Linked DNA regions of Homo sapiens. The protein of the gene in region 1 interacts with the protein of each later gene in a biochemical or structural test. Each region holds a gene or a part of one and is shown in the gene's direction. Other genes may lie near its edges.

Region 1 (7,025 bases):
CCCAGGTATAGAGTTACAGGCATTTCTGGAGCAACAGCTGAGAATGTCCCAGTGGAACAGATTGTTGAGAACAATGACATCATCATTTTAACTCCACAGATTCTTGTGAACAACCTTAAAAAGGGAACGATTCCATCACTATCCATCTTTACTTTGATGATATTTGATGAATGCCACAACACTAGTAAACAACACCCGTACAATATGATCATGTTTAATTATCTAGATCAGAAACTTGGAGGATCTTCAGGCCCACTGCCCCAGGTATCTCCAAAGTCAGACGAATGCTTCAGAAGAGCTATAATCTTCCTAACTCCTATTTTCTTACTCTTATGGCCACACTGAAGATGTCCTTCTCAGGTCCCAAGTCCATATTGTACAACTCATTATGAATTTTGTTTCCTTTATTCATTTGTTCACTTAGTAAATATGCATTATGTGCCTCCATGTGCCATACACTGTGTGTTAGTAAAAACAAAAAAACGCCCTACCCCAGCAGGAAAGAGTTATATGAGGGGTTGTGGAAACATTGTACCATTTCTCAGACATCTAATGATTTTGAATGCTCCTTACAGGTCATTGGGCTGACTGCCTCGGTTGGTGTTGGGGATGCCAAAAACACAGATGAAGCCTTGGATTATATCTGCAAGCTGTGTGCTTCTCTTGATGCGTCAGTGATAGCAACAGTCAAACACAATCTGGAGGAACTGGAGCAAGTTGTTTATAAGCCCCAGAAGTGTAAGTTGGATCCAATAACAAGCCTTTGAGATTCTGTTACTCTCTACTACCTCTAGTTCAGAGCCATCTAGACGAATACTGAACTTTGACCCTCTCTCTGTTTAGTAGAAAATATTTAACCTTGAACTTGAGTAACAGTCACATTTTTTAGCCTCTCTAACTGAGCTCTCATCCCAAGCAATGGATGAACCTCAGAAGTGGCCTGTAGAGAGCAAACATTCTTCCTCTTTGCTTCCAAAAACCTCTTATAAATGTACTAGCAATGCAAAAGAGGTGATGAGAGAATTTAGGCATCAGATAGCCAAGAGCTGGGCTCACTCAGCCTTTTCCCATGCTCTGTGCCTGTGTGGTCATCACTGTTTGAATATGTATTTGATCATTTTAGTTGAAATGGAATGATCTGAATTCATGATGTCACTCCTCCAAAGATCAGATATGATTTTTTAATATGACTAACAGTTGTTTATTGATGTTATTATTACACTAACCCTGAAAGGAAGAGAGGGATACAGAAAATATATATGACTTCACCCTTGCTCTCTGAGTAGTATGTGACTGTATTTCTGAGGTAGAACAAATAGACATGTAATAGGGAGTGGTGTAGATAAGTTCCTTTTTGAAGGCTGCTTGTAAGTAAGGATTTTGATGTACCTGATCCCAACTTTTCAGTGTCACATATGAATTTCTTTACAATCCGGTTCCTCCTGCCCTCTGAGCTTCATCACCTCCAAACATTCATAAACCCAACCATGTTGCATTCCTCTGGGCTCCTCAATCATGCCGTGTGCTTTCTCTCTCCCACCTTTTGTCTGTGCTTCCTTTGTACATCACTGCTCTTTTTTTTTTTTCTTTTTCTTTGCCAAGTTGTGATGGAATATACATGACTACTCTTGCTTTCTTCTTTCTTCTTCCTGTATTTATTCTACAACTCTGACTTCCCTGGAAGAATTAGGTGTTACTTTCCCTGTGTTTTGTGACACTTTGCGTGTACTACTTCTTTTTTTTTTTTTTTTTTTTGAGACAGAGTCTCGTGCTGTTGCCCAGGCTGGAGTGCAGTGGTGCGATCTCGGCTCACTGCAAACCTCCACCTCCTGGGTTCAAGTGATTCTCCTGCCTCAGTCTCCTGAGTAGCTGGAATTACAAGCGTGTGCCATCACGCCTGGCTAATTTTTTGTATTTTTAGTACAGACAGGGTTTCACCATGTTGGCCAGGCTGGTCTTGAATTCCTGACCTCAAGTGATCCACCCTCCTCGGCCTCCCAAAGTGTTAGGATTACAGGTGTGAGCCACCACACCCGGCTACACTTTACATGTACTTCTGTTAGAGAACTGCTACGGTTAGTTAGCCATGTATATTTCTCTCCCTTAAGATCACAGCCCTGTATGGAGCATGAAGTGTGTTCTTTCAACTGTCTATAATCAAAGCATGGCACATTGCAGGCAATTAATAATTAGGCTGAAATAATATATTGATAAATGGTAGGATCAGTGTGAATACTGCTGGGAGCTGTGTGGGGAGGGAGAATATCAAAGCACAGAGACAGGGTTAGATTGTGGCACTTGCAGAGACATGAGAGATGCCCGCCTCATCAGAGAGGAGGTAACAGGACAGCCACAGTAAGAAGCTGGTTAGGCCGGGTGCGGTGGATCACGCTTGTAATCCCAGCACTTTGGGAGGCCAAGGCGGGTGGGTCACCAGCTCAGGAGTTCGAGACCAGCCTGGCCAATATGGTGAAGCCCCGTCTCTACTAAAAATACAAAAATTAGCTGGGCATGGTGGTGTGCGCCTGTTGTCCCAGCTACTTGGGAGGCTGAGGCAGAAGAATCACTTGAACCTGGGAGACGGAGGTTGCAGTGAGCCGAGATCGCGCCACTGTACTCCAGCCTGGGTGACACAGTGAGACTTGGTCTCAATCAAAAAAAAAAAAAAAAAAAAAAAGAAGCTAGTTAGACCTACACCATGAAAGACAGGTGTTAGAATCAGTACAAGAAGCAACAGGGAGCCATTGCATTTTGAGCATTTGTTGTATCATCTGGACCACCTGCCAGTTAGCCTGGAACCTTAGGTTTTTCAGAGGAAGTATCAAAGGCAGAGAAAGGTTTTAGAGATACCTACTTTGAACTACAATCTGTCCTTCCTGAAAATATACTCACTCTTTTTTTCTTTTTCTTTTTTTTTTGACGTCTCTAGTTTTCAGGAAAGTGGAATCACGGATTAGCGACAAATTTAAATACATCATAGCTCAGCTGATGAGGGACACAGAGAGTCTGGCAAAGAGAATCTGCAAAGACCTCGGTGAGATAAATCTCATATTTTGTGTTCTCTCTACTGGGGAATAGCCATTTATTGTTCACTATCGTCTTTTTGTGTTCTCCTTAGTTCAGACAATGTCAAGACCATATCCAGAGGTTGTCTTCCTTGATTATAGGTTATTTAGGAGCCTTATATGTCCTCCTCTATTCTTTCTTTCTTCCTTTTTTTCCTTTTAAATCCAAAGTAAGTTCATCCAGACACATGCACCTGAAAAATAACCATACTTAAGTCAGTTCATTGCTTTCTCTACCTTCTAAATCAGCTTTCCCTCCTGACTTTCCTGTTCACCTGAATGAAACCACCATTCCTCTACTGGCTCAGATTTATATCTAGGGACAATCACCCAGCACATTTCCCAGCATTAAAGGAGTGCGACTAGAGATGGGCCAGGGGAAGACAGTGAAGGGCCTGGATTTGAATTTTATCCTAAAAACAATGGGGAAAAAAGTGAAGATTAAAACTGATTAGTGACGTAATAAAGATACCAGTGAATGAGAAGGACCAAAGAGAGGCAGTAGAGATGGATTGGAGAAGGAAGGAGACACATGTGAGATGCTTCCAACTGTGAGTGTTATGATTGAATGGCTAAACGGATTTGGGTGGGGATGAGAAAGGGGCAGGAGGGGCTGATTTCCCCCCAGGCATCTGGCTTAGGCACCTCTATGAATGCCAGTGGGTGGTCCTGGTACCAGGACTAGAAGCAGCCTTGGCAGGTACAAGGTTTTGAGTTTTGAGTTTTAGGGATGTTAAATGTGACGTCTGTAAGACACCTCATGGAGTGTCTCCTCTCACACTTATTTTGCTTTTCTCTCCCCTTTTCTTTCACAGTTTAATTTCTATTATAATTGTTCTAACAGCCTTCTAGCTGATTTTGCCTACCTCTGCTCTCTCTTCCATTCAACCTCTCATGAACTAGTTAGTCTTCATGAATACATTTTATCATGTCCCTGTCCTGCTTAAAAACCCTTTGCCTACAGGATAATCTTCACGCCTCTAACCTGCAGTCTGAGCCCTGCCTGAACACCCAGGTTCTACTTATCTTTCCAATGTTATATTCTACTACTTCCCTACCTGAATCCTTTTGATTTAGCAGTTTCCCGAATGTGTTCATGCATATGTTCATTCATTTAGTGCTAAGGAATGGGCTAGGTGATGGGAATACAGCATGAACCCTAAGATACAGCCCCTGGCCTCAGGGCATTTCTAGTCTGATGGTAAGACCAAAATTAGAGAAGTAATACTAATACTAAAGCAGCTGGTGTGGTGGGGGTGATAAGGTGTGTTTCAGGCACAGGGAATAGCATATGCAAAGGCCAGGAGACTAGAAAGAGTATAGGGACTTCCATTAGTCCTGTAGAATGCTGAAAGGAGAGTGGCCAGAAATGAGAAGCAAAAGCAAGCAGAGGCCAGAGCATGGGGAGGAGTGTGTGAGCTGGGGCAGGATTTTGGCTGCAGGACCACTAAAGGCTTTTAAGCAGTGGGGTGGGATGATTTCTCATCTGCAATTTTGCAAACTCCCTCTAACCACTGGGTAGAGTATGGGTTAGAGGGAACAAGGCAAGAGGAAGGGAGACCAGTTTGGAGATTGTCATATTATCCAGCAGCACACTGATGTGGTTTGAATTGGGGAAGTAGCAGAAGGATGGAGAGACGGTGATGGAGTCACGTGAGTTTCTATTTTCTTACTCCTCCCACCTCCCGTACCCTGCCTCCACCTTTTTGCCAGTCCGAATCCAGTTAGCTGCTCATCTCTAAACTGCTTAGGCTATTTTTACACCTACCCAGGTTCAATCAGTACCTGTTGGCTCATCTTCTTTACTGCTGGCCACCTCGCTGTAGCTGCAACTTGGAAAGAAGCATGTCAATACTACTTGTTTGGGTAGCCTCCTTTGTTCCTATTATTGAAAATGAATGAGTGAGGGGAAGAATTTAACCCAGAAATACAGCTCTTGCTTGTGACTTTTGTTGTACTGTGCTCTTCATGAGGAGCCCTGGCGAACTGATACCAGAGTAACTCACAGACTCAGCTGCTTGAGAACACAGCCATAGTCTCCTCATCTTATCCCCAGCACCCTACACAGAGCCTGGACCACAGCAGATGCCCCAGCTTTGAACCAAGCAACTGAGGCTTATCCTAGGAGATGCACACAGACAGATGCATGTGTGATAAGTGTCTTTTGAGGGCCGATTCTATGCTTGGCCCTGAGAATGCTGCTCTGGAGAACAGGAGGCCCAAGTTCACAGCAAAGCAGAACATAGGGTGAACTGAGTCCTAAATCTCCTCCTTGATTTTTTTTTTTTTTAAGAGTCTCACTCTGTCGCCAGGCTGGAGTACAGTGACGTGATCTCGGTTCACTGCAACCTCCGTCTCCTGGGTTCAAGCGATTCTCCTGCCTCAGTCTCCTAAGTAGCTGGGACTTCAGGTGCGTGCCACCACCCCCAGCTAATTTTTGTATTTTTAGTAGAAACGGGGTTTCACCCTGTTGGCCAGGGTGATCTCAATCTCTTGACCTCGTGATCCACCCGCCTGGGGCTCCCAAAGTGCTGGGATTACAGGCATGAGCCACTGCGGCCGGCCAATCTCCTGCTTTTATATATCCTCCTCTGATGAAGCTCTTGAGACCTGTTATTTTTACTTCTTCATTTTTAAAGGCAAAGTTGGGTTTTTCATGTCTACTGTTTTATTTCTGGGCTGCTTTGGTTGTCAGCTCATAGAGCCAGTAGAGCTTGGGCATCTGACACATGTGGGTTTGAATTCCTGCCCTTTCTCCACGTACTTGCTGTGTGACTATGGGTAAATTACTTATTACTTGGCTTTTCTGAACTTCAGTTTCCCAATATATGAAATGTAATATGTATCTCATGGGTTGTGAAAATTAAATGAAATTATGAATGTAAGGTACTTTGATTCTTGGTACACAGTACTCAAGAAACAATCAAACACACACACACACACACACACACACACAAACAAACACACAGATGCACTGCTTAAAACTCAAGGGAGGGAACAAGGCAAGAGGTAGGGAGAACAGTTTGGAGGTTGTCATATTATCCAGCAGCACAGTGGTGTTATCTCAATGGGGGAAGGAGCAGAAGGATGGAGAGATGGTGATGGAGTCACATGAGTTTCTATTTTCTTACTCCTCCCACCTCAGGTACCCTGCTTCCACCTTTTCACCAGTCTGAATCCAGTTAAATAGTTTTAACTAGATGACTTAAGACTATTTCAGGAGGAATATCCTGTTTGCAGAGAGTAAGAAAGAAAATTAGGCCAGGTGCAGTGGCTCACGCCTGTAATCCCAGCACTTTGGGAGACCGAGGCAGGCGGATCACCTGAGGTCAGGAGTTTGAAACCAGCTTGACAACATGGTGAAACCCTGTCTCTACTAAAAATACAAAAATTAGCCAGGCGTGATGGCACACGCCTGTAGTCTCAGCTACTTAGCAGGCTGAGGCAGGAGAATCGCTTGAATCCGGGAGGTGGAGGTTGCGGTGAGCCAAGATCGTGCCATTGTACTACAGCCTGGGCATCAGAGCGAGACTCTGCCTCGAGGAAAAAAAAAAAGAAAAAGAAAATTAGAGGGTGAGGCCTGTTTATAACCCTAAATGACTGACCATATGAGACAGTGAAAAACTTTTTTTTTTTTTTTTAACAGAAAACTTATCTCAAATTCAAAATAGGGAATTTGGAACACAGAAATATGAACAATGGATTGTTACAGTTCAGAAAGCATGCATGGTGTTCCAGATGCCAGACAAAGATGAAGAGAGCAGGATTTGTAAAGCCCTGTTTTTATACACTTCACATTTGCGGGTACGTTCCTCTTTTTAAGAGTCGTATTCTGGTCACAGCACCTACTGGGAGTGGCACCGTGGAAGCCAAGATAACATCAACTTCTCATCCTGTCCTCAAGAGCTCACTTAGGAACCTTTCCAGAAAGTTCTTATGAAGCAAACTCCAAAAGTTGTC
Region 2 (7,025 bases), on another chromosome or scaffold:
TAGCGAGCCGAGATCACGCCACTGCACTCCAGCCTGGGCACCATTGAGCACTGAGTGAACGAGACTCCATCTGCAATCCCGGCACCTCGGGAGGCCGAGGCTGGCGGATCACTCGCGGTTAGGAGCTGGAGACCAGCCCGGCCAACACAGCGAAACCCCGTCTCCACCAAAAAAAAACGAAAACCAGTCAGGCGTGGCGGCGCGCGCCTGCAATCGCAGGCACTCGACAGGCTGAGGCAGGAGAATCAGGCAGGGAGGTTGCAGTGAGCCGAGATGGCAGCAGTACCGTCCAGCTTTGGCTCAGCATCAGAGGGAGACCGTGGAGGGAGAGGGAGAGGGAGAGGGAGAGCGTGGTGATGACTCTTAACCGATTTTTAATTATTTCAATCATTTTGTTAAATTTACCTGATAGAATTCTGAATTCCTTCTCTGTTATCTTGAATGTCTCCGAGTTTTCTTAAATCAGCTATTTTGAATTCTCTGTCTGAAAGGTCACATATTTCTGTTTCTCCTGAATTGGCTCTTGGTGACTTATTTAGTTAGTTTGGTGGGGTCATGTTTTCCTGAATGGTCTTGATGCTCGTGGATGTTTGTCAGTGCCTGGGCATTGAAGAGTTAGTTATTTATTGTAGTCTTCACAGTCTGGGCTTGTTTGTACCTGTCCTTCTTGGGAAGGCTTTCCAGGAATTTGAAAGGACTTGGGCGTTGTGATCTAAGCCGTATCTGCATTAGGGGGCACCCCAAGCCCAGTAAAGCTGTGACTCTTGCAGACTACTAGAGGTACCACCTTGGTGGTCTTGTATAAGATCCAGAAGAATTATCTGGATTACCAGGCAGAGATTCTTGTTCTCTTCTCATACGTTCTCCAAAACAGTCTGTCTGTGTGCTGAGCTGCCTGGAGCTGGAGGTGGGGTGACAGAAGCACCTTGTGGCCATGACCACTAGAACTGCACAGGGTCAGACCTAAAGCCAACACAGCACTGTGCCTTACCCAAGCCCCTTGTTAACCACTATCTGGCTACCACCTATATTGACTCAAGGACCTAGGGCTCTATAATCAGCAGATGGCAAAGCCAGCCAGGCTTGTGTCCTTCCCTTCATGGTGGCACATTCACCCAGGCTCGGGGCCGGTCCAGAGACCCATCTCAGCACTAGGACTTGCCTAGGAGTTGCAGTCCTTGTGGCCTAGACTGCCTTTCAAGTTTATTTAGAGCCCCAGAGCACTTCAGCCCACAGTGGAGAGGCTTGCCAGAACTCAGGTTCCAATAACTGGGGTGGGTGATTTGATTCCTCTCTGGCTAGGACTGATCTAAATGCTCCCTCTGTGGGTAGGCGTCAGCTGAATTCAGCCCAGTTTTGCTTTGTGAAGCGACAAGGCAAAGTCTTTCTATTCTCTTTATCACCATGCTCTCCCTTTCCTGAGTGCACAGATTCTCTGTGCATGTGGCCCCTGACACATGGGATATGGGTTGCATTGGCAATTCAAGACTGTTTCTCCTACCCTCTTCAGTGCCTGTTTCAGTAATATAAAGTTAAAACCAGGTACTGTAAGTACCCCTGATTTTTGGTTCTTATGAAGGTGCTTTTTTGTGTAGTTGTTAAATTTGGTGTTCTTGTGGGAGGGATGATCAATGGAGCCTTCTATTTGGCTATCTTGCTCTGCCCTCTCCACCCTTAAGTCTTCTGGCTTTCCCCCACTTCTCTCTGGCCCTAAACCATTTTTAAGTATACAGTTTGGTGATATGAAATACATTCACAATGTTTTGAAACCATCACTACCATCATTTCCATAACTTTAAAAAATTTTAAATTAACATGACTGGTTCTTCAGGGTACCATAACTCTTTTCAACTCGCAAAAGTGGAATTCTAGGAGGACATTAAAATTCTCCATTTCCTCTTCCCCCAGCCTCTGGCAACCATCATTCTAATTTCTGTCTCTGATTTTGACTACTCTAAATACCTCATATAAGTTGAATCATACAGTATCTGTCTTTTTGTGACTGGCTTATTTCACTTAGCATAATGTCTTCAAGGGTTATTTATGTTGTAGCATGTGTCAGAGTTCCCTTCCTTTTTAAGGCTGAGTAGTATTCTATTGTATGTATATGCCACTTTTTGCTTATTCATTCATTTGTCTGCAGATACTTGGGTTGCTTCCATGTTTTAGCTAGTGGGAATAATACTGCTATGGGCATGAGTTTATGAATCTCTTTGAGATCCTGTTTTCAATTCTTATATATCCGGAAGTGGAATTGCTAAATCATATGGTAATTCTAATTACATATATGTACATATATATATATATATATATATATATATATATATTTTTTTTTTTTTTTTTTGAGATGGAGTCTGGCCCTGTCGCCCAGGCTTGAATGCAGTGGCATGATCTTGGCTCACTGCAACCTCCATCTCCTGGGTTCAAGAGATTTTCTTGCTTCAGCCTCCCAAGTAGCTGGGATTATAGGTGCCTGCAACCACACCTGGTGAATTTTTGTATTTTTAGTAGAGATGGGGTTTCACCAGGTTGGCCAGGATGATCTCGAACTCTTGACCTCAGGTGATCCACCCGCCTCGGCCTCCCAAAGTGCTGGGATTACAGCCATGAGCTATTGCGCCTGGCCTATTTTTAATATTTTGAGCAGCCACCATTCTGTCTTCCATAGTGGCTATATCATTCCCACCAACAGTGCAGAGGGTTCCAATCTTCCCACACCATCAACATTTGTTATTTTGGTTTTTTTTTTTTTGATAGTAGCCAACCTAATGAGTGTGAGGTGGTATCTCACTGTATGTTTTGATTTGCATTTCCCTAGTGATTAGTGATCTTGAGTGTCTATTCATGTGCTTATTGGTGATTTGTATATCTTCTTTGGAGAAATAGCTATTCAAGTTCTTTGCCCATTTCAAAATTCAGTTGTTTGTGGGTTTTTGCTTGTTTGTTTTACCAACCAAACAAGCGGCAGTGATATGTTTTTATTGTTGAGTTTTAGAAATTCTCTGTATATTCTCAGTATTAATGCCTTATCAGATGTATGACTTGCAAATATTTTCTTCCATTTTTGTGGATTGCCTTTTTACTCTATTGTTCGTGTCTTTTGATGCACAAATGTTTAAACATTTCATGTAGTCCAATTTGTCTCCTTTTTTCTTTTGTTGCCTGTGCTTTTAGTGACATATACAATAAATCATTGCCAAATCCAATGTCATAAATTTTGCCCTATGTTTTCTTCTAACAGCTGTATTATTTTAGGTCTTACATTTAGGTCTTTGATCCATTTTGAGTTAGTTTTTGTATATGATGTTAGGTAAGGGTCCAGCCATATTCTTTTGCATATAGATATCCAGTTTTCACAGTACAATTTGTTGAAAAAACTGTCCTTTCTCCATTGAATGGTCTTGGCACCTTCGTCAAAAATCATTTAACTATATATGTGAGAGTTTATTTCTGGGTACTCTATTGTATTCCATCGGTCTGTATGTCTGTTTTTATGCCATTACCACAGTATTTATGATTCCCTCTGTCTAGTGGTGGTTCCTGGGTCCAGTTTTATAGAACCCAGGACCTGAACTTTGCTATTTTGAAGGTGGCAGTAGAGAAGAGCATCACAGAAGTTGCTCAGGAGCTGACAGAGCTGGTGGAACATCTTGTAGACATTGTCAGAAGCCTGCAGAATCAGAGGCCCCTATCAGAATCTGGACCAGACAACGAACTGAGCATCCTGGGCAAGGTAGGCTCCACTGGGAGAGGAAAGGATGTGGAAGGGAATAGGGCTAGGGATTGCTTTCAACTGGAACAACATGAACATATTTGAACCTGAAGGATACAATAAGTCTCAATCTTTTATTGTTCTCTTTACTACCAGACATGGATGATTGGACATTTGGAATGCTTGAGGTAAGGTTGGGAAGCTTCAGATGGGCTAGGATCACTCCACCTAACAAGCTGTCTCTAAGATCACCAGTGACCTCTGTGTATAACGTTCTGGTGCCTGTCTCTATAAGCGTTCTGGTGCCTGTCTTCATTGACCTTTCAGCAGCCTTTGACACTGTGGACCACACCTTCATTCTTAGCTTTTGGGACAGGAATCTTTTGGCTTTCCCCCACCTCTCTCTGGCTGATCCTTCTCAGTCTGTTTACAGGCTCTCTCTCCTCTGCTTAGGAATTAAATGCTGGAGTTCCTCAAGGCTGAGTTGTAGGTCCCTTTGTTTCCCCTGCAGGTAGTCTTCCCTGCATCCATGGCTTTAATGACCACCTCTATGCACAAATAATAGCTCCAGGCTGGAGCCTTCTCTGAGCACTAGGCTGCTATGTCTTCCTTCTCATCTTTTCTTCTTGGGTATCTCAAAGCATCACACTTAATGCGTCCTAAACTGCTCCTCTTCTGGGATTTCTCATCTCAATGCTTGCCCCATTATCTTTCCAAGTACAGAAGCCAGAGACCTGGAAATCATGTTACCTTCTTCTCCCTTACCCTAATATGCAGCATATTGTAGCTTTAAGACCTGCCTAATTACCTCTCAAATCTATTTACTTATTCTTGAGCTCCTTTGAGACTTGCTCTAATCCAAGCCTCTGATAATTTCATGTCTGGATTGCTGTCATAGTCTTCCAAATGCTCCACTCTCCCTCTTCTAGTCTGTTTTCCTCATGGTCATCACAGTGACTACCACAAACATCAATCTGAAAATGTAACTCATCTGCTTAAAACATTCAAATTACATCAGTTTGCTCAGGAGTAAGACCCAAATCCTCACAGGACCAGCAAAGCCCTGTAGGATCCCATCTCTGTCTGCCTCTCAAATCTCATCTCTGCTCATGCTGCCTGGCTCTGTGCGCTCTAGCTACACTGGCCGCACAGTCGCTCTAGTGTGTCTCACGTCTTCCCACTACAGGGCACCCTTCATGGAATGCTCTCCTTTCCCTCCATCACTTAGGTAATACTTGCTCATCCTTCAGATCCTAGCTAGAACGTCATTTCTTCAGAAAGAAGCCTTCAATGATTTCCTTGAACAAATCAAATCTCCCCATTAGAGGCTCTGAGGACTCCATGTACCTTTCATTTGTAGTGGTTATCACCATTGCACCTTTGTAATGTCTTGTGCCATACTCTATATTAATGTCTGCCCCCCTCCCTTTTCCTTCACTGGACTCTCAACTTCAGGAGGATAGGGACTTTTGATGCTTTTTTTTTTTTTGAGACAGAGTCTTGCTGGAGTGCAGTGGCGTGATCTCAGCTCATTGCAACCTCCGCCTCCTAGGTTCAAGTGATTCTCCTGCCTCAGCCTGCCGAGTAGCTGGGACTACAGGTGTCCGCCACCACTCCTGGCTAATTTTTGTATTTTTAGTAGAGACGGGGTTTCACCATACTGGCCAGTCTGGCCTCAAACTCCTGACCTTGTGATCCACCTGCCTCGGCCTCCCAAAGTGCTGGGATTACAGGCGTGCGCCACATTGCCTGGCTGATGCTTTTGTTCTTTTGTCCACCATTGTGTCCCCAGGCGCTAGCACAGTACCCAAGTACCCACTTACAGTAGGGGTTCAACAAATACCCACTGAATGTATGGATAAATCCATCTTTAGGGATGCGATGTGTTGGGATAGAAACGCTGAGAGTCTGACTTTCAGAATTGACATTGTCACTCACTAGTATTATGACCTTGGGCAAGTCATTTCATCTATCTGCGTCTCAGGTTCCTATCTGTAATATAGAAATAATGATACAGGGCCTGCCACATCATTGGTTTATTGTGAGGATTAAAAGAGGTATAAGAAAGTGCTTGAGCAATGTTAAAATGTGGGATGTTATAATTAACTGTGGCAATTTAGTTAACCTTCATGAATTTCATCTTCTTTTGTAAAACGGAGATTTTTTACAGGTTGATAAACCTACTTTGTGAGGTTGTTATGCAAATGAGAGAAAGGCAATATCTAGCATGTAGAAAACACTCAATAAGTGTAATACTACCGTATTTTGATTGGTGGAAAGAATGGGGAGTGGATTATGCAAAGGTGGGAAGGAAAGGGGTTGAAGTTGGTGAGCAGATAAAGGGCTGTATTGGGGAAGAACAGGACCTGAGGCTAAAGAAAATCAGGGAGCATGTGTTGAAGGCCCTAGAAAGCAGGACCTGGATGCAGGCAATTTGAGAGGGAGCTCTTGCGAAGTGAAATGATATAATGATAGAGGTGGGAAAAGGTTCCTTTTTTTTTTTTTGTGAAATGGAGTCTTGCTCTGTCGCCCAGGTTGTAGTGCAGTGGCATGATCTTCTCAGCTCAGTACAACCTCTACCTCCCGGGTTCAAGTGATTGTCCTGCCTCAGCCTCCCATGTAGTTGGGATTACAGGCACTTGCCATCATGCCTGGCTAATTTTTGTATTTTTAGTACAGACAGGGTTTCACCATGTTGGCCAGGCTGGTCTCGGATTCCTGACTTCAGGTGTTCTACCCTCCTCAGCCTTCCAAAGTGCTGGGATTACAGGTGTGAGCCACCACACCTAGCCGAAAAGGTTATTCTGACCTCCATGGTTTATCTCAGTAACTATCTGTAGTATTTATTTTATAAAGCCCCTATAAGATGCGCCTAGAAATGTTAAACTTTTTTGGTATTACCTAAGAAATCCATGTTTATTGTGCAAAATATTAGAAAGCACATAGCATTAAATAAAGCAAATTAAAGTGCTCCATAACTCCATCACCCAGAAATAACCACTCTTTGATATTTTTGCTGTACTATGTACAGCAAATTATTCCAGATTTTTTTCAAGGCATATTTTTTGAGGGCCTAATTTTGTTTTTAAAAACTTGCTGGGAATTAAATAGAAAATTATAGATGAATAGAAAAACTTGAATATAATAGTTGATAGACTGCATAGGGGACTTCCATTTATTCAGTTTTAAATGGTTTATCAATAGGCTTTTTCTTCTGGGGTGGATCTTTCCATGGCTTCTCCAAAGCTGGTGACTTCCGACACAGCTGCAGGGAAAATCAGAGATATTCTCCATGACCTAGAAGAAATTCAGG
Region 3 (7,025 bases), on another chromosome or scaffold:
CTGGTCTTGAACTCCCAACCTCAAGGGATCCTCCCACTTCAGCCTCCTGAAGTGCTGGGATTACAGGCGTGAGCCAGGAGCCTGGCCTAAACTCTGCTGTTTAATCCTAACAACAGGCCTTCCTCTGCCAACACCTACCCCCCTGTCCTGACTTGCTGAGTCCTATAACAGGTCTGCTTTTTGAGCCCTGCTACTGCTGCTCATCACTGTTGGCAGAGCCAGTCTCAGCTGGGCAATGCCCTTAGCCTCGGGGGCTGGGTTGCCTTGGCCACTGGTGGGGTCGGACTTGAGACTCTGGTGCCTCCCATGTGGAAGACCCAAGTCTCTAGTCTGTGAAGGGATCCTCAGGATTTCAAAAAGTCCTTTGCCTTTGATTAGGGGATTATTGCTGCTACCAAAGTTTTTGGGTCACTTTCCTTTGGTCTGGAGTCGTGTGGGCACCATTCATGATGAGGGTACTGCCGCATGTGTTTGATTAATGGTGTATCAAATCTTTCAAAATATAGGGCTCAGGGTGTAGTGCTATGAGCAGCTCTTGAAAGTGAAGCAGTTGGCAGCCTTGGGGTGTTCTGAGGTCTCTTCTTGCTCTGAGGCCAGCAAGGCCGGATGTATGTAGGCCTGGTCTTTGGCCCACACCTTATCTTGGCCACTGTTAGAGGCCAGGTCGAAGGGCAGTGTCACAGAGGTCAAGTTTGAAACATCATGAGCAGCTTGGGCTTTTCGGATTGAGTTAGTGTGGCCTTGGTCCCTGCCTCCAACCCCTACATGTGACTGTCACTGGGTTGTTCAAATCTAGATTCAAGATCAGGTTCCGCCCAGAATATCTTGGGTGGAGTTGAAGAGTCTGGGAAGTGGAAGAGAGAGCCAGAGTATGTTGAGCCTGCTAGTTACGGGAAGGAAATTTTTTTTTTCTAGAAATCTCCAGCATGCTCAGTTTGGGCATGTGTCTATGATTTTAATATCGGGATCTTAGCTGTGCCAGTTACTAGTAGTGTAGCTGGGGCAAGTCACTTAATTGTTCTGTGCCTCAGTGTCCTTGTCTGTAAAGGCTGGGTAATTCCTACCTCATAGTGTTGTTCTTAGCTTTAAGTAAGTTAATACAGGTAAAGCACTAGAACAGTGCCTGGCATACAGTAAGTGCATAATAAATACTGGCTGCTGCTGTTATGGTGGTGGTGATTTTCCTTCCCATTTCTGTGCAGTATTCATCTGAGCAGGGAGGTAGGAGACTCAGATATTGATTATGAAAATTAATTGAAATCAGATGAGGATATTAGCTTCCTTCATATACAGTTTGCCTTTGTTTCTGGAGGTGGCTAGGACTGAGCAGATTTGCACCTGGGCTTCAGCCCCTGTGAGCTACTTCATCTTTTTTTTTTTTTTTTTGAGACAGGGTCTCACTTTGTCACCCAGGCTGGAGTGCAGTGATGCCATCTCAGCTCACTGCAGGCTCAACCTCCCGGAATCAAGCGATCCTCCTGCCTCAGCCCCCTAAGTAGCTGGGACTACAGGTGTGCACCACCACACCTGGCTAATTTTTGTATTTTTAGTAGAGACAGGGTTTTGCCATGTTGCCCAAGCTGGTCTCGAACTCCTGAGAGCAAATGATCCACCTGCCTGGGCCTCCTAAAGTGCTAGGATTACAGGCATGAGCCACTGCGCCTGGCTGGCTGATTCATCTTATTCCCAGCCCTTGGTGGTCCCAGTCTGCAGTGAGCCTTGGACTCTGATTTCTGTCTCCCTGCCCTGTGAGGCTGACAAAGGCTCCCAGCCTTGTTCTGGGATTGGCAGATGCCTCTGGAGAGAACATCCTAGATATCAGGCTTATCTCTCTGGGCCCCCTTCCCCCTTCTCCTGGACCTTGACTTCTTAATCCTCTGCTTGATTGGCTCTCCAGCATCTTTTAGCAGATCTCCCCGCTGCCCCATTATTTGGACTGCTTTCCTGGCTGTTTGCAGTGGGAGGATTGGTCTGAGTGGCCCCACCTGCCATTACCGAAGCAGCTGTCCCAGCTCGTTCTGTTCCTGTGTGAGCTTGGCCACCTTTCTGTCCTCCTTGCTTGAGTTTCATTGGCTGTAAAATGGGTAATTAGAGAAAAACTCATAATAATATAAGCTGGCATTTAGTATGTTTTTCCTAAGATCCAGGCATTGGGCTGAGTACTTACATTGTTTCAATTAATCCTCCCAATAGCCCTGTGAGCTGGGGACAGTTGTATCTATTTTGTGTCCAAGAAAACTGAGGTGAAGGACACAGTTGCACAGCTGGGAGTTGGGACTGGAACCCTGGTCTGTACTGTCCTCTGAAAAGGATGAAGGGAAGTAGTAAGTATTAGAATGCTTCAAAAAGCTCCAAGCAGGCAAGACTCGGGTGACAGGACTTGGGGTGGCAAGACTTGGGTGGAGTGGAAGAGGAAGGAATCTATCCTGTGGGATAGTTCCAGGGATGGCTTCTGGTGGGGCTGGGCTGAAGAGGTGCATTCTCAACCTCATTTGTTTTCCCTGCAGGCCACCCTGAGGCACAAACTAACTGTCATGTACAGTCAGATCAACGGGGCGTCGAGAGCACTGGATGATGTGAGAAACAGGCAGCAGGATGTGCGGGTGAGTGGCAGGGCTCTCCAAGGCCAGCCCTGCCCTGTGGCTTCGCTCAGCTTCCACGCGGGATGGGCGTGGCTCTGACCATGACAAGGCTGGTGTTGGGTGCACTCACAGTGTCAGGATGAAACATCAACCTTGCAAAGCATGCAGACAGCTGTGTGTCTGAGAGAGATCCTTTGCAAACCCAAACCAAAAATTACCTATAAGCCCAACTGTGGGGGAAATCATTATAAATTAGGATTAAAAAGTAGTAATTCAGAAAAATGGTTATGATATAAAGTGGGAGAAAAAGAGGAAGCAAAAGTATATAGCTCATAGGGTTGCATCTATTTACAAAAAGGAAGTATATTAGTTTCATAGGGCTACTGTGACAAATTGCCAGAAACTTGGTGGCTTACAACAACAGAAATGTATTCTGGCAGAGTTCTGGAGGCCAGAAGTCCAAAATCAAGATGTTGGCGTGGCCACACTCCCGAAGTCTCTAGGGGAGAACCCTTCTTTGCTTCTTACAGTTTCTGGTGGCTCAGGCATTCCTTGGCTTTTGACTGCATCACTCTGATCTCTGCCTCTGTCTTCACATACCTGTCTCTTCTTCCCTTAGTGTCTTCCATCTCCAATAAGAACCCTTGTCATTGGATTTAGGGAGCACCTAGGTAATCTATGATGATCGAATCTCAAGATCTTTAATTGCATCTGCAAAGACCTCTTTCCTAAGTAAGATTACAGTCACAGGTTCTGGTATATGGACATGTCTTTTGGGGGCCCAGCATTCAACCCATTACAGAGAGCATGGAAAGAAACTGAAAGGGAATATTATAGAAGGATCATAGTGGAAGTGTTGGAGTGGTAAATTAGGAATGGTTTTGTTCCCCCTGTTTTTCAGATTTTCGATACGTTTAAATTGCTTTTAAATGGAAAGATCAGATTTTTACCCTTTTTCAGAGCTGCAGCACCAGTTTTATTGCAGCAGTTATGGTTTCATTAGATGAGATCTAGGTTAGAATACCAGCTCTGTCACATACTAGTTTATGTTGCTTTGGTCATGTTGACAGATCTTTGAACCTTCGTTTCCCAATTTGCACAATGGAATCACAAGTTCTTTCTGAAGATGACTGTGAGACAAATGAAAGAATGCACGTGAAAGTACCTGTATTTGTTAGAGGGCAGGCTATACTGCTGTAACAAAGATACACCAGAATTCAGAGGCTTAAATATGATTGAAGTTTATTTTACCAACTGACAGTCCAAACCCACACATGAGTAACCCAGACTAAGGGTTCATGTGATCATTCAGGGATTAAGGGTTCTCCCTTCTTATTACCCTACTATTCCACAAGGTATTGTCCCAGCCTCTTTGGTTGAAGCTGGGTTACCATTACATCTTTGTTCTAGCCTGTGACAAAGGGACAAAAAGGAGGTGGAGGACAACAAGCAATTTTCCTTTACACAAGTGACACAGTGTTGCACATATCACTCCTGGGCATGGGTCACTGGAAGGAGTTTTGTCACATCGCCTAGTCTAGCTGCAGGGGAGGCTGGGAAATGTAGTCTGAGTAGCCACACGCCCAGATGAAACTCCAGGGATGTTCTCTTACCAAAAGGAAAAAAGGGAAAATGAACACTGGGGGACACTTGTAGTCACATTAGAAGTTGCACAGTGAAAGATTGGCAAAGAAGGCTGGGCGCAATGGCTCACGCCTGTAATCCCAGCACTTTGGGAGGCCGAGACGCATGGATCACCTGAGGTCAGCAGTTCAAGACCAGCCTGGCCAACATGGCGAAACCCCATCTCTACTAAAAATACAAAAAATTAGCCGGGCGTGGTGGTGCATGCCTATAGTTCCAGCTACTCAGGAGGCTGAGGTAGGATAATTACTTGAACCCGGGAGGCAGAGGTTGCAGTGAGCCGAGGTCATGTCATTGCACTTCAGCCTGGGTGACAAGAGTGAAACTTCATCTCAAAAAAAAAAAATATTGGCGAAGAAATACTTGAATTCCTCTTTTCCAGTCTACTGTCCTTCTTGTGTGTTTTTCTCTTTGTTATGTTTGATTCTGAGCTATTGTCTTAGTCTGTTTTCTGCTGCTATAACGGAATACCACAGACTGGGTATTTGCAAAGAAGAGAAGTTTATTTGGCTCAAAGTTCTGGAGCCTGAGAGGTCCAAGAGCATGCTTCCAGCATCTGGTGAGGATCATCCATAGCGGAAGGATGGAAGGCAGGAGAGCGGGACAGGAAGAAGGAGGTCAAACCCTGTGATAAGAATATGAATCCATTCATGAGGGCAGAGCCCTCGTGATCTAATCACCTCAGTGGCAATTAAATCTCAGCATGAGCTTTGGAGGAGACATTCAAACCATAGCAGCTATTGAGGCTACCCAAGATGTGAAACAAAATTGCAGCTACTAAAGCAGTGCTGTCCAGCAGAAATACAGTAGGAGTGCAGATGTCATTTTAAGTTAATTTGAATAGTACATGAGATTTATTGTATTTTATTTATCTATCTTTTTTAGGACAGGTCTCACTCTATCACCCAGGCTGGAGTGCAGTGGAACAATCATAGCTCACTGCAGCTTTGAACTCCTGGGCTCAAGTAATCTTCCTGACTGAGCCTACTCCCCTTCACCACCCCCACTCTCCAGGAATACAGTCCATCTAATTTTTTTATTTTTATTTTTGTAGAGAAACAGTCTGTCTATGTTGCCCAGGCTGGTCTTGAACTCCTGGCCTCAAGCGATCCTCCTGCCTCGGTCTCCCAAGGTGCTGGGATTATGAGCATGAATCACTGCACTTGACTGAGATTAATTTTAATATTATAGTTTATTTAATTTGGTATATCTTAAATATTATTCTTTCAACATATCATCAATTTAAAAGTTTTAAGATATTTTACATTCCTTTTTTTGGTGTGAAACCCTTGAAAGCCAGTATGTATTTTACACTCATGGCAAGTCTCAGTTTGGACTAACCACATTTCAAGTGCTCAGTAGCCACATGTAGCAAGTGGCTATGTTATTGGAAAGTACAATCCTAGAGCATGATATTCTCTAGAAATTTTCCAGAGCTGCATCCTGACTTTTTGTTTTGTTTTATTTTATTTTATTTTTTTGAGATAGCGTCTCGCTGTGTCTCCCAGGCTGGAGTGCAGTGGCACGATCTCGGCTCACTGTAACCTCTGCCTCCTGGGTTCAAGCGATTCTCCTCCCTCAGCCTCCTGAGTAGCTGGGACTACAGGTGCGCGCTGCCACAACCAGCTAATTTTTGTATTTTTAGTAGAGATGGGGTTTCACCATGTTGGCCAGAATGGTCTTGATCTCTTGCTGACTTTTATTTTTAAAAATTGCCCATGAACCACCTTTAGCTTAAGAAATAAAATATCATCGATGCAGCCCCTCCCATCTGTTTCTCCCTTATTCTATCCCTCTTCCTCTCTTCCAGAAGTAACCACTCTCCTGAATTTATTTATTCATTCCCATGCGTTTCTTTGTGCATATAGCCATTCTGTTTGTTTCTAAGCTTTATTGAAAGAGCATCATATGGTGGATCTTCTTCTGCAAGTTGTTTTTCTCTCATGGAGATTTATCCAGGCATAGCTCCAGTTTATTAATTTTCATAACTGTTTAATATTCCATCCTATGAATAGCTCCCAGTCTTTGCTTCAAGTCTTCTTCTGATGGATGTTCAGGTTGATTCCAGGTTTTTGCTACTTCAGACAATGCTGCCTGTGAACATTCTTATGCATGTCTCAGGGGCAGGTGGCTGCAATTTTTTGTAGCACATATTCCTAGGACTGGAGTTGCCGAGTCATAGCCTATGAGCACCTCCAAATTTATTAGATATTGCCAAGTTGCTCCCCACAGTGGTTTGTTCTCCCACAAAGTACAGGTAAGAGTTCCTGGAACTCCACATCTCACCCATGCTTGGGGCTGCAGCCTTAGCACTTTTGCCCCTTTGACGGGCATCCTCTTACCTTGGCCCTCTCAGATGACTGCAAACAGAAAGGTGGAGCAGCTACAACAAGAATACACGGAAATGAAGGCTCTCTTGGACGCCTCAGAGACCACCTCGACAAGGAAGATAAAGGAAGAGGAGAAGAGGGTCAACAGCAAGTTTGACACCATTTATCAGATTCTCCTCAAGAAGAAGAGTGAGATCCAGACCTTGAAGGAGGAGATTGAACAGAGCCTGACCAAGAGGGATGAGTTCGAGTTTCTGGAGGTAGGTCGCCACAAGGCATTGTTGAATGTTTTTTTTTTTTTTTTGCCTGATGTCATGCTGTTGATGATAGGGCCCTCAAGGAGCGGGAGACTGGAAGAGGTCACTGGAAGCATCCCTGAGACACACGCTGTATTAGTTTTCTGAGCTGGGCAACAACTTACCACAAATGTAGGGGCTTCAAAAAACACATATTTATTCTCTCAGAGTTT
Region 4 (7,626 bases), on another chromosome or scaffold:
CCTGGAGGACAGAGCGAGACTCCATCTCAGGGAAAACAAAGACAAAAACAAAAACACAAAAATTTGAGAAAGTTTAGTTATGAATGGCAGAATGTTGGGTAGGAAGTGTTAAGTCCAAGAGAAAAATAAAAGCATGGATAAAGGCCTTGAGTCAGAGAGAACTTAACACACTCAAGGACTGAAATAAGTAGAGAAATTTAGAAGCCTGAAAAATAGGGAGGAGAGTGAAAGCAGCTAAGACCCCCAAATAGTTACTTTGGGAAACCTTACTGTTGGTCCATCCAATTGTCTCATCTCCTTTCTTGGTATAAGAACCCTATTTATGTTGTTTCAGAGAGCTGAGGTGCCAAGTCCTATGGAATAAATAATAAGTTTAAGCCAATCAGAGTGCTCCCATTCTCTTTTGCTAGTGACTGATTTAGGATGGCAATGGTGCCCAATTTTGACCAATTAGATAGGAAGGGAAGCCTGCAGAGGAAGGCCTCTAGGAAGCGTTTTTCTCCCATGTAAAAGAAGAGAGAGCTACAAGGGGGAAATCTTACCCTTTCCTTTTTGTTTTTGGAGGTTGTGTATAGAATTGACTGTTTCAGCCATAAGGGAGACATGCTGAGGATGGCAAGGGGCTGAGGCTGTGAGGACATAATTGAGCTGCTGAGACATCTCTGGAACTGTTTACACCTGGACTAGTTTGCCATATTCGATAATAAATATCTTTTTTTTTTTTGAGACAGAGTCTTGCTCTGTTGCCCCAGGCTAGAGTGCAGTGACATGATCTTGGCTCACTGCAACCTCTACCTCCTGGGTTCAAGCGAGTCTCCTGCCTCAGCCTCCTGAGTAGCTGGGCTTACAAGTGTGTGCCACCATGCCCGGCTAATTTTTGTATTTTTATTAGAGATGGAGTTTCATCACGTTGGCCAGGCTGGTCTCGAACTCCTGACCTCATGATCAGCCTGCCTCTGCCTCCCAAAGTGCTGGGATTACAGGTGTAAGCCACTGAGCTGGTCGATAATAAATATCCTTACTGAACGAGGCACTTTTAGTTGAATTTCTGATTCCTGCCATCAAAAGTAAGTCTTGCAGGAATTTTTAGATAATATTAAGGATTTGGAATTTAATCCTAAGGATTAGGAGAGCTATTAAAGGATTTTGTGCATGGGGTGACACAAGATGTTTGCTTTTCAAAAGATCACTTTAGTTGCCATGTGGATAATAAACTGGAGAGAGGCAATGATGGATGCGGGTAGAGCAGTTAGGAACTACTGCCATTAAGTCACACAAGAGAATGCAGTGATTTAAAATAAGCGGTGGCTATGGAAATAGAAGAAAATGAGCATGGTGGCTCACGCCTGTAATCCCAGCACTTTGGGAGGCCAAGGCAGGCGGATCATGAGGTCAGGAGTTCACGACTAGCCTGGCCAACATGGTGAAACTCCGTCTCTACCAAAAATATAATAAAATTAGCCGGGTGTGGTGGCATGCGCCTGCAATCCCAGCTACTCAGGAGGCTGAGGCAGGAGAATCACTTGAACCCAGGAGGCAGAGGTTGCAGTGAGCTGAGATTGCGCCACTGCACACTTCCAGCCTGGGCGACAGAGAGAGACTTCATCTCAGAAAAAAAAGAACTACTGAGATACATATTGGAGGCAGGATTGTGATTATGCTTGATTCAATGTGAATGAGGAAGAGGAAGAAATCAAGGATGACTTCCAGGTGTCTAGACTGAGCTATAAAGTGGATCATAGTGCCATTTGCTAAAAGAGAGATCAACCACTGGAGGAGGCTGCTACTATAATGAGTTCATTATTGGAGACATTGGGCTGAGGGTGTTTATGTCAAATGGTCAGTCATGTAAGCTATTAGGCTATTGGACATTTGAATGGCCTGGGGTAGAGATAAAGATGTGAAAGTTTTTGGAACCGAAATAGTGACAGAACCTGTGTGATTTTTGAGAGAAAGAGAAAGAGAGAAAGAGAGAGAGAGGAGAAGGGAAAAGGTCCTAAGACAGAATCCTAGGATCTCCAGCCCAGAGCCAGTGGAGAAGGAGACTCTGGCAAGGGAGAAGAAACAATAGCCAGAAAGAAAGAGGGAAAGTCAGAGTGTTTCCAGAAGGAGGGGATGGTCAGCACTAACAAACATAGTTGAGGGGTCAAGCAAAAAAAATAGCTGAAAAGAATCTATTGGAATTAGTTACATGAACGTCACCAGTGACACTGATAATAAAGCAGTTTTTGGACAGATGGAGGTGGAGAGGTTGGTTCAGAACCCAGACTGGACTGAATAAGAAGTGAATAATTAAGAAATGATGACAAAATGTAGAGGATCAGATCAAGAGATTTGGCCTTGAAGCGGATATGGGGCAGGAGTTGAGGCATAAGTGGGATGAAAGGGAGGTTTTTGTTTTCCTTTTGAAGATGGGAATAACTACCTTTTCATCTTATTTCCCCCCCCCCACCGCCTGCCCCCCACCACCCATGCTCCAGCTCCATAGGTCTTTCCTTTCTTTGGTTCTGCCTCATTCACTGTTCCCAGTCCACGCTTTTTCCTAAATCTTTGAATGGCTCACTTCTTTTCATTATTCATGGCTCTGCTCAAATGTCACTTCATCCAAAAATTCTTCTCTGAGCTTATTCTTCTCCTCATTGCCATTTACTGTTTTATCTTCTTCATGGCTCTGATTATCTGAAATGATTTTGTTCATTTGTTTATGGATTGATTACATGTATCTTCCTTTTGTTTGTTGTTTGTTTTTGAGACAGAGTCTCGCTCTGTTACCCACGATGGAGTGTAGTGGCATGGTCTCGGCTCACTGCAACCTCCACCTCTTGGGTGCAAGTGGTTCTCCTGCCTCAGCCTCCCAAGTAGCTGGGACTACACGCATGTGCCACCACACCTGGCTAATTTTTGTATTTTTAGTACAAAAATTTTTACTAAAGAAATGTATTTCTAGTAGAGACGGGGTTTCACTATGTTGGCCAGGCTGGTCTTGAACTCCTGACCTTGTGATCCACCTGCCTCGGCCTCCCAAATTGCTGGGATTTCAGGCGTGAGCCACTGCACCCAGCCTGTTTTGGTTTTTTGAGACAGGGTCTCCCTCTGTTGCCCAGGCTGGAGTGCAGTGGCATGATCTCGGCTCACTGCAGCCTCCACCTTTCCGGTTCAAGCGATTCTTGTGCCTCAGCCTCCCAAGTAGCTCACACCCAGCTAAGTTTTGTATTTTTAGTAGAGACAGGGTTTCACCATGTTGGCCAGGCTGGTCTCAAACTCCTGACCTCAGGTGATCTGTCCTTCTTGCCTCCCAAAGTGCTGGGATTACAGGCGTGAGCCACTGCCCCGGCTTGGTTTGTTTTTTGAGACATGGTCTCACTCTGTCGCACAGGACGGAGTGCAGTAGTGTGATCTTGGCTCCCGTGCTCAAGTGATCCTCCCACCTCAGCCTCCCAAAGTGCTGAAATTACAGGCGTGAGCCACGGTACCCGGCCTATATCTCCTAATTAAAAGTAAAGCCTGGGTGAAGTTTATGGCCTGCTAAATACGTACATGTATTATATGCGTTATTATATCCCATGTGTTATATTATATATTATTGTATATGTGTATTATATACTATGTACTATTCTTACAACTGTATGTGAATCTATAATTATCTCAAAGTTTTGTTTTTGTTTTTTAAAGTAAGTTCTGTGAGAACTGGGATTTTGTTTGCTTGTTGACGATTGTGTCTTCATCACTAGAACCGAGTCTGGCGTGCAGTGGGCACTAAATAAGTCTTCGTAAAAAGTGTAAATTAACGCCCGGCTAATTTTTGTATTATTAGCAGCGACGGGGTTTCACCATGTTGGCCAGGCTGGTCTCGAACTCCTGCCCTCAAGCAGGAGTTTCAAGCCCGCCTCGGCCTCCCAAAGTGTTGGAATTACAGGCGTGGGCCACCGCGCCTGGCTGATCATGTTTAAAGGGCGGGGTGGGGAGCGTACAAACAACAGAGGAAATCCTGAGCCGCAGAGGAAACTGGAGATGGCAGGGTTTAGCACTAGAATCTCTGTAGGAGAGGTAAGATTGGAATCCTAATCTCCAGGACTCTTTCCACTACCCAGGCTATCTCTCCATTAATGGACTATTGATTGGATGACAGAGTAGCGATAGCACCGTCTTAGGAGACGCCCAATCATAGGTCATAGGTCATTTTTGCAGCTTATTGTGATGACAACAGTGGAGGATGGTCTTCCACTTCACCTTAAAAGCGGCTGTTCTCTGATTATCATTAAGCATGGCCACGCCCGCACTTAACTTCTGACAGTGGGGAAAGCAGCTGTGTGTGATAGCTTGGAAGGTTTACTGCTGCCTCAAGTCCTCTTCTCTGCAGTTGAGGTTTCAGGTTTCAATCCTCCCAATACCACAAGACAGAGCACGGGGCGGCTGCCGCCTCCGCCTCCGCGCCTTAACCTAGGCGGCTTGCCGAAGATCTCAGCCCCGCGGCCGCGCGCTCGCCCTGCCCTAGACCAGGGTTGGGCGCAGCGGCGGAGGTGGCTTCTGGGCTGCGCGAGCTGGGAGAGCTGGGAGGCGGCGATCGCAGCTGGGCCGGGACTTCCTTCCTCCACCGCACGGCAACAAAACAACCCTGCGGCAGGCACTGAGTGCTTCGCAGCTGTCTGGGCGAGAGGCACAGCGATGGGCTCCGTGCTGAGCACCGACAGCGGCAAATCGGCGCCCGCCTCTGCCACCGCGCGGGCCCTGGAGCGCAGGAGGGACCCGGAGTTGCCCGTCACGTCCTTCGACTGCGCCGTGTGCCTTGAGGTGTTACACCAGCCTGTCCGGACCCGCTGTGGCCACGTGTAAGTTCCAGGGGAGCTCGGTTTGCGCCCACCCCTAAGGAGGGCGATGTGGGGAAGCTGAGGGCATGGTGTGGGGAAGGAGGGGGACGGAAGACAGCCTCTTAGGAAATTGCTGCAGGGAGAAACCTGGACCCGTCGGATGCAGGACCACGGGGAAAACGCGGGTCGGAAGGTGACACAGGATTTCGGGAGGAGAAAAAATAAACAAGCGGGTCCTGTAGCCCCCTTGCGCTTTCAGCTCCCGAAGCCCAGGTGCGGAACTCCAGAGAAGGGGATCCAGGCACGGGTCCCGCCCAGAGCCAGGGCTCGCCAACTGGGGAGGGTGCTCTTGGCTGGAGAACCAGCGCTCGCCCAGGCACGGAAAGGAAACGAGCTCCAGCTACAAGGCAGGGGCTCCCGCAAAGCGCAGTTACCCCGCTGAACACGGTAGAACGGGCTGCGCTTCCCTCTGCCCCAGAAACCCGGGTCCGTTTTGTTTTGCTGGAGCTGTGCACGTGTTCCCAGAATGCCCACAGAGGCTCGTCTTAAGCAAACAAGGATCTGTGCAAAGTGTCTTTCCACCCCCACCCCTGCTACCCTTTCCCAACACAGACACCCAGCCCCTCAAAGGGCAAGTCAAACTGGAGCTTCCGAGTGACTTTCCACAGTTGTTAGAGTTTAACAACCTGCTAGGGTGGGGCTTGGACGTTAGCCGCCAAGCCCCTGAATGTACTCCTTCAAAACCCAGCCACAACGTAACAGGAGGTGGCAGGCTACCTGCTTTACGCACGGTCTCTCCAAACCGGCGGAAATTACAGAGTAAAATAACTTTCTCAAAACCGCATAGTACTTAGCTAAAACTCACAGTTGGTGCAAAGCCGTGGTCGTTTCTAAGAAGAATTTAAAAACAAAGTCCCTATATAAAATTGGCACATCCTTAATGTGTGTTTGAATAACTGGTGGAGTTGGAGCTGTGAATTTGTGCTCTCTGTTTACTGTGTGTGTGTGTGTGTGTGTGTGTGTGTGTTTGAGAGAGAGAGAGAGAGACGTAGTCTGGCTCTGTCGCCCAGGCTGGAGTGCGGTGGTGCTATCTCGGCTCACTGCAACCTCCGCCCACTGCAACCTCCGCCTCCCAGGCTCAAGTGAGTCTCCTGCCTCAGCCTCCCGAGTTGCTGGGATTACAGGCGCCCACCCCCACACCCGGCTAGTTTTTGAATTTTGAGTAGAGATGGGGTTTCACCATGTTGGCCAGGCTGGTCTTGAACTCCTGACCTCAATTGATCCACCCACCTCGGCCTCCCAAAGTGCTGGGATTAAAGGTGTGAGCCACTGCACCCAGCCTTCTCTCTTTGCTTTGATTTTTTTTCGTGGATACGTGTGTGTGTGTTGTGTCTGCACAGATCAGGAGCGGAAGCCTACTTAATGTCCTTTGAAGGGTGACTATAGTATGATGAAGCCATGTGTGATACCACAGTGGCTTGTACCAGCATTTGGCTTAGCAGGAAGAAAGAAATACCGTTATTATGAATGCAAGTGCACAACATGTTTTTGAGGACCACTTTTGAAAGGATTTAGGTAGTCCTTAAAAACATGTTGTGCACTTGCAGTCAAAAGTTTTGACGCCCGGCGTGGTGGCTCACACCTGTAATCCTAGCACTTTGGGAAGCCGAGGTGGATGGATCACCTGAGGTCAGGAGTTCGAGACCAGCCTGGCCGACATGGTGAAACCTCGTCTCTACTAAAAATACAAAAATTAGCCAGGTGTGGTGACCCGTGCCTGTAATCCCAGCTACCTGGGAGGCTGAGGCAGGAGAACTGCTTGAACCTGGGAGGCAGAGGTTGCAGTGAGCTGAGATGGCATCATTGCACTCTAGCCCGGGCAACAGAGCAAAACTCAGTCTCAAAAAAAAGAAAGAAAAAAAAGAAAGTTTTGAAAGGACTTAGGTAATCCTTAATACCTATAGCCTTGTATCTGAAAAGCAGTTTTCACTACTGCCCGTCTGTGAGCCAGGGACAAAAGTGTGCAGCCTGCACAATGTATAAATAAAGAGTGCTTTGGGCATTATTTCGTAGCTGTGTTTTCTTTTCTTTTGAGATGGAGTCTTGCTGTGTTGCCCAGGCTGGAGTGCAGTGGCACGATCTTGGCTCACTGCAAGCTCCGCCTCCCGGGTTCACGCCATTCTCCTGCCTCAGCCTCCCGAGTAGCTGGGACTACAGGTGCCGCCACCACGCCCGGCTAATTTTTTTGTATATTTAGTAGAGACGGGGTTTCACCGTGTTAGCCAGGATGGTCTTGATCTCCTGACCTCGTGATCTGCCCGCCTCGGCCTCCCAAAGTGCTGGGATTACAGGCGTGAGCCATGGAGCCCGGCCGTAGCTGTATTTTCAAGGCCTGTTGTTTCAGCTTTGTTCTTAAAACTCGAGGCTTAAATTTACCCTCCTTTCTATTACTGATGTTGTTGCTCAGCTGTCCAGATGTAGCTTATTAACATAATATCCACAGGCCAGTCTGGAAGCCAAGATGGGCTGTGTGAGTCATAAAATATATTGATTATTTTAGGGCAATAACAGCCTAAAGATATCTCCATTTAAATTGAGTCATTATTAGCATTAAAACTTTAAAGTTGTGCAAAACATAAACAGTGGGCGTTTTGAAGATTCTTTTTGGAACAGACCGCTTTGCTATTCAATGATCTGACTGGAGATTGTTTTCTCGGTTTGGACTTTGAATATTATAATTTACCATTTACAATATTTTTCCTTCTACTAAAGGATAATATAAATTTGCAAAATGTTAAATTTTTTGTTTAATCTTTTT

What was found.
Region 2: of the proteins of RIGI (region 1) and RNF135, one has a biochemical effect on the other in vitro, tested with the Homo sapiens proteins (6 studies listed by BioGRID, with this or other methods).
Region 3: of the proteins of RIGI (region 1) and TRIM25, one has a biochemical effect on the other in vitro, tested with the Homo sapiens proteins (5 studies listed by BioGRID, with this or other methods).
Region 4: of the proteins of RIGI (region 1) and RNF125, one has a biochemical effect on the other in vitro, tested with the Homo sapiens proteins (3 studies listed by BioGRID and IntAct, with this or other methods).

Annotation. Positions count from the first base shown.
Region 1 is NC_000009.12:32,481,184-32,488,208, reverse strand, and holds part of RIGI (antiviral innate immune response receptor RIG-I), read left to right. Parts: intron 1-5; coding exon 6-264; intron 265-575; coding exon 576-738; intron 739-2,929; coding exon 2,930-3,034; intron 3,035-3,065; exon of another isoform or gene 3,066-6,711; coding exon 6,712-6,869; exon of another isoform or gene 6,870-7,025.
Region 2 is NC_000017.11:30,981,028-30,988,052, forward strand, and holds part of RNF135 (E3 ubiquitin-protein ligase RNF135), read left to right. Parts: intron 1-3,589; coding exon 3,590-3,733; intron 3,734-6,916; coding exon 6,917-7,025.
Region 3 is NC_000017.11:56,904,046-56,911,070, reverse strand, and holds part of TRIM25 (E3 ubiquitin/ISG15 ligase TRIM25), read left to right. Parts: intron 1-2,507; coding exon 2,508-2,603; intron 2,604-6,582; coding exon 6,583-6,816; intron 6,817-7,025.
Region 4 is NC_000018.10:32,014,199-32,021,824, forward strand, and holds the start of RNF125 (E3 ubiquitin-protein ligase RNF125), read left to right. Parts: upstream 1-4,626; 5' UTR 4,627-4,665; coding exon 4,666-4,829; intron 4,830-7,626. UniProt on the Homo sapiens protein: E3 ubiquitin-protein ligase that mediates ubiquitination and subsequent proteasomal degradation of target proteins, such as RIGI, MAVS/IPS1, IFIH1/MDA5, JAK1 and p53/TP53.